2 linked regions of the Homo sapiens genome follow. The protein of the gene in region 2 purifies or fractionates together with the protein of the main gene of each other region. This does not show direct contact. Each region holds a gene or a part of one and is shown on either strand. Other genes may lie near its edges.

What was found.
Region 1: the proteins of VANGL1 (region 2) and RFTN1 purify together in Homo sapiens (co-immunoprecipitation; one large-scale study listed by IntAct). This does not show direct contact.

What each region holds. Positions count from the first base shown.
Region 1 is NC_000003.12:16,506,943-16,510,771, forward strand, and holds part of RFTN1 (raftlin), read right to left. Parts: intron 1-3,829. UniProt on the Homo sapiens protein: Involved in protein trafficking via association with clathrin and AP2 complex.
Region 2 is NC_000001.11:115,696,133-115,698,837, reverse strand, and holds the end of VANGL1 (vang-like protein 1), read right to left. Parts: 3' UTR 617-2,705; downstream 1-616.

The sequences.
Region 1 (3,829 bases), on a different chromosome or scaffold from region 2:
GGCTCTCAAATTCACTTTCTTAACAGTACAGCACAGGGGTTGGTCATACAGGCTCTGGAACCAGACTGACTAGGTTCAAATCCTGCTGCCCTTATTTCCTACCTGTGTGACCTCAAGGAAGCCATTTAACCTCAGTTTTCTCATCTGTAAAATGGGGACAACTGCAATATCTACTTCTAGGGTGAGGACTAAATAAGGTAGGGTGAGTTACTATTTAACAGGGCTCAGAAGAGCTCAGACACATAGAAAGAGCAGTATAAATATTAACCGTTTTAGTACTCTACTGGGATTACTTGTTGCTCATTATGAAGACACCTTTTGACCTACTCTGGCCTATAGTCATGATTATGCCACACTGAAAAGGGCACTTATAAGGTATCATAAGACACCAGAAAATCCCAAAAGACCTCTCTAAATTAAAGAAGTGTTTAAATAAACAACCTGATTTCTTGTGCTTTATATTTCCAAAATTTGCTAATACATGATATGATCAGGTTCCATTAACCAGAGTCTATGATTAACCAAATCTCTTACCCAACTTTCTGAGTAAAATCTATTACAACAGTTCCCCCAAATCTGAGGAACTTTAGCGCTATTCCATAAAACTTGAAGGATTCCTCAGGACAAAGGGTAAAAGGCAAAGTAGGGAGTTTCAAAACACACACACACACACACACACATACACACACACATGCACACATCCACAAACACGCACATACATACACACACAATGCACATAAACACACACATACACACACATACATACACATACACACATACACACAAACACATACACACATACATGCACACTCACATACACACAAACACACACATACACTCACATACACACAAACACACACAAACGCACATACATACATACATACACACACACACACATACACACATATATATACACACACACATGCACACATATGAAAGCTGATAGGCCCCCGTAAAGAATAAATTGTAACCCTCAAGGAGGTCTGCCTATGGAACAACACGACGGGACATTTCAGGTGTAAACGCCAGAGAAAGTTGTCAGTGAGGTGCATCTGGCTTCCTGGTTGAAGAAGTGTGGAAACCTCCAATACGGGATCTTAAAGTAGCATAAGAGTTTGTCGGCATCAAACAACTGAGCCAAGCATAGCTTATGTTGATTTCCCACTTCTGGCTGGACTTGCTGCTTGCAGACACCTGAGGAGTGGCTTCCTCTCTCCTGTGAGGCTGGTTCTGAAGTACTGTACACCCCAGCAGAGGTGACAGCCACAGTACCAGCCCTCCACTGTCCCATGTAACTGGGACATCAAAGCTGCCAGCCTTCTCCATCAATCCCTGCACCCCGGAGGCAGGTCAAATCCAGGAAAACTCTAAACGAAGCTTTCAAGTACCCCAAATGGTGTCTCCTCCATCTCAGTCCTGGCAGGGAGCCATCACTGCAGAATGTCACCTGATTTTCCAGCTCTTTGGTTCTGGCCCACTGAGAGTGATTTTTCCTCCTGAATTCAGCCCAGGTAGGGAGTAAGTCACACAATTGCATATTTAAAAGCTGAACTGAATTCTTATTTGGAGAGCAAGGAATTAGCCGGGTTCAAGCAGTGGCTATCGCTTGCCTGCTGTACCAATTTTTTATGAGAAAGTGTCTTGATAAAACATGCAATGCTAATAATGAAAGCCCCTTTGGGGCCCAGGAGAAAAGGGAGATTCAAACGTATGTCAAAAACTGAATGTGAATGGAAGGAAAGATCACACGCACGCACACACACACACACACACACACACACCCCTTTAAAAGGTAAACACAAAAGCAACATCTGGCTAAATGTATCCCTTTGTCAGTGAAAAATAGCAGAAGCCCTAGCCAAGTGTGTTACCAATTCTTAAACTGAAGGGTAAAAAAAAAACACCACAGAGCAGCACTGTCAAACAGAACTTTCAGCAATGATGAAACTACTATCTGTGCTATCCAATTCAGTAGCCACTAACCACACGTGGCTCTGGGCCACTTGAAATGCGGTGAGTGAGACGGAAGGACTGAATTTTAAATTTTCTTTTCTTTTAATTCATTACATTTAAATGTAAATAGCCACATGTAACTAGTGGCTACTGTATTGAACAGTTCAGCTGGCAACGTCTTTCTGTTCCTTCAATAAAATTGTAATCCTAATCAACCAATAATATTTTAAATTATCATCAAAATTAGTATAAGCCCCTGGCTGTGCCAAACTCAGTAAGCTTAAGACAAAATGAAAACAAACAAACAACAACAAAAAAAAACTAAAGAAAATGATTGCAGTGTATCATTTCCTGTAACGCTGTTCTGATTATCTAATTTACATTTCTATTATAATATGGCTTTGTGTATTTGGAAATCCGTGATTGTAGACAGATTTTGCCTTCAAAAAACCAGAATGTCACAGTCTCTTCCCTTAAGGTCTTAGAAAAATGAAAACGTGAACTTAGGGAAAGTTAACCTTGCAAGCTTCAATTTCCTCAGGGCTGAAGTGAAGATAATATAAGTACTCGCCTCTCATGAGGATTAAATTCAGATAATGCGTGCAAAATGTACAACAGTGCCTGGCAAAGGGTAAGCACTCAGCAAGTGGCAGCTATAATTATTTGTATTTTATTAACAATATTAAAATCAGTAATAAAGAGAACAGTGTTAATACAATGAAAGTTTACACTGAACAAAATTTTCCTAGGCCCAAACCCTTTGAATGTGTTTTCCAAGCCATGGTAAAGTGCCCTCGAGTAAAATACATCCTGGGGCCCTGACATCTTGACACCCACTGTCAACCTCCAGAGAGGCGATCACCCAGATGGGTATCACGAGTCACGAAATCACTCAGCCAATGTTTACTGTGTCCCTACCCTCTGGCAGGCACTGCGCTAGGCTTTTAAGGAGGAGGGAACAGTCCCCAAACACAGTGCAATGTCTCAAGACTGAGCTGTCTGCCATCTGACTCCTGCAAAGCTTGGTCAGCCCTGGGACACCTTGATGGGATGCAAAACATGCATCCTGGGGTCCCACTCAGACAGAAAAGTTCACTTCCCGTTTCCTAGATCAGCCAAGGCAAGCTTTGGCTGTTGGCACCACAGAGAGGGACTAAGTTATTAGGGGACCCGAGGGGCACAGGCCCATTTTCCCAGTCAGGACAATAAGAGGGGTGTTGACAGGCCATGTTTCTCACTGAGAGGCCAGATCACTTTCACAAGAGAGTCATTCTCTGAGTCTTAACAAAGCCAAATCTGACCTGCCCCTCAAAATAAACACAACCCCTTTCAGTAGCCGGCTGACCAAGCCGGTGAAATCCAAGGGGACTCTCCACCAAGTTAATATCAACCCTACCAATAGACCAGAAATCCCCCGGGAGTTTCTAGGCAGAAGCTTAGTAAAATTCTGTGGGGCTTGGGGTTATTTTTCTTTTTATAGAAAGCACTCAATCAATCTTCTTTCACAACCAAGGGTACATTCCCCTATGGAATTCCCTTCTCTGAAAATCTCTAAAAATAAAATATTCATCTGATCGTCTGCAATGATTTAAGTTTAAACCCATTTTCAGGCAGAGTCAGGGACTTCCTATGGCCCCTCCACCTATAAAAACATGTTCCCCACTGCCTCAGATTCCCTCTGGCCCCAGAAGAACACTAGTCAAACCATGCTCTTGACTTTAGGATAGGAAAGACAGGGCTGTAGTATCTGGAATCTCATACTTGTATTCTTTGCTGGTGAGACTGTAAAATGGTATAACCATGTTGGGAAAAGGTCTGGCAGTTTCTTTTCAGGTTTCCATATATCTCCTTTTTGACCCAGCAATTTACTACTAGG
Region 2 (2,705 bases):
GGCCCAAAGAAACAGCTTATCAATAATCTAACCAATGAATATCTTTGAGTCAATTGCTTTCTCTAATTTCTGTCCATGCAATAGCTAAGAATTTGATTGTGTGCTGTCAAAATTCTACCACTGAGGTTAGCGGAAAACAGGCTTCATATTTCTTTGCAAATAATCAAATTTCCTTTAAATAGACCTATCTAAAATCAGTTGATAATTTAACTTGAATTCCCAAGCCACTCAGGAAAATAATCCAATATTCACCTCCCACATCAACCCAAAGTCTGTTACTTTTCTGTCTTCTTATTTGACTCAAATACCTTTCCACTTGCTGGTTTACTCAAAAGATCTGTTTCATCTCCATGTTTTAGAGCCTGAGGATTTCATTTTTAGTTATCTATTCAAAACATTTTCTTCACTGTAAAATGATTGACAACTAGTAGTTTTTGTTACAATGGTAATTCTACTTTCCCAATCCATCACAATTGTCTTGGTTTTTATAGAAATATGACAGGTTGTCTTGAAATTCTGAAGGTCTCAAAATTATGCGAGAGTGAAAAATGTCCCTGAAAAAGTAAGCAACTTTTTAGATTGAAATAATCACATGAAGAAAAGAAACAAGACACAATTTGATATTTCAGTTTATTTTCCAAGTTTACAGTATAAAAAATGTGATGTGTAAAACATTTTACAGTTAATTGGGATGAGGGGGGGATTATACTGGAGGACCCAAAAAGGAACAAAATAACTTGGGTGACAGGTACACTATTCCATCAGAGACACTAACTCTGTTACTGACATCACAATGAGAAGAAGTTTCATAGCATAAACCTTATGAATGTAAGTAAATGGACCTGTACAGATGGTTGCTGGTAGTGTCATTCATTCATTTACATGCTTGCAAATGTGTCAAAAGAGCCCACTACCCAGTTTATGCAGGAACTCACTCAGGCCTTGTCATACACATATGGTGACCATGAGCAGAGGCTGGTTGGCAAAACTGCCCCTCCTGGTTACAATGTACAGTATTAACTAATCAGAAAGAACAAAAAAGGTCCCTGACCACATTTTTACACAAACCGTTATGACTCTGTCAGGTAAAGACAGGTGGTTTCATCTCTGAACTTTCTAAATTGGTGCTGGACTTGAAATCAGGAAATGTAAAGTCCTTCTAACCAAAGCAATTATCAAATAATCTCCTCTCAAATAAGACCTGCCTGGCCCAGGCCTCTCTGGTTCTCTCAGTAGCATTTCTGTTGAGGAAGGGGTCATCTATAATGTGAGTTAAATCACTGAGCCAGTATCTGCCCCCACCCTCATCTTTGCTGGCATCCTGCACTCTATGCAATAGTTATGGCCATAAATGACTGTTGGAAATCAAATTTGGCTAATCACGCCATAACTTAGGGGTCCCAGAGGAGTTTGCCATTTAATTAAAGCCTACCGTAAACTATTATAAAAATAAATTATTGCCATAGTTTAGATTTTTGTATGTTCCCTTTTTAAAGAATGATGATGAAAAGTAAGCGAATGTTCCATTACCTCTATAACTGAGAGGTGCTGGTAAATGAAAAACAACTGTTTCATCTTTCTACAAGGCCCCTAGAACGGCAATGATGTGCAACTGTCTAAATTCCCTACAACTTCAGTTGAACTAAACTTGTCACCTGCAGATCAGATGCCCAAGTCCCATCACTAACTCCCTGAGCAACAAGTCTCTGGTCCCCACAGATGAAGCTTTCTTAGGCTGAAGGCTTTTTAGAATTAAACACTCCTAAATGATGAGCAACTTCACAACAAAAGGCCATGTCTACAAGTGAAAGCTCAGATAAAGATAAGCACATACAAAACCAAACAACTGTACATTCAAATAATGCTTCCCAAATACCATTTCAGTGCCAAAAGAAGTGCCAAAGACACTTTTAAGATAAAAGCCTGGGGTTTGTCACCTTTGTCCCCAAAGCTTAAAGTAAGTGTCTTTCTTCCACTATGACAAGGACAAAACGCTGATGTTTGTAAGCTGAGAGAGACATAAATGGTAGAGTCTTGGTGCCATATTGAAAGAAACTTTTCACAGTGCTGCACCTGGCTTTAGGAATCTGCTCTTTTGTTGGAGAGACTAAAACAACCCACTAAAGAGGCTTATTTCATAGACAAAACAAATTGGGTTATCTACGTAGAAACGGAACAGGACCTGGGAAAACGGGACTTATAGAGCCCTGAAATTTAATTTTATTCTGAAGTTTTACATTTCTAATCCATCGCATCTTAATTCCTAATGAGATGTCACATGGAGAGATGTGAGCACCATCTTCCCTTTACTGTCTTCCATTGAAAGCAAACAGCAGGGCAGAAAACTATGGTTTATGCACAACTGAATCAAAACTTACTACATATGGGAACAGAGAAAAATGGTTTTCTGAGTCCTGTTTTACGTCTGCTCTGTCAAAAGTCTTGGGGGCAAGTGTGAGAAAGACGGTGGGATGCAAACTGCTTGCTGAGAACACCTACGTCAAGGAGGCCAGGCCAGGGACTCCGGCTTGAGATCCCCACAGGATGGGGCTGTGGACAGCCCCTCTCACTCCAACCAGGGAAGAAGTTTGGGGCATAATGTTGCCATGGCACCAGAGAGAGGCCAGGTCAAGCCCCTGCCTGCCTCCCTGCACCCAAGGCCCAAGGCACGCATCTTGCCCAAGCCAGCAGAGTGGGAGCAGAAG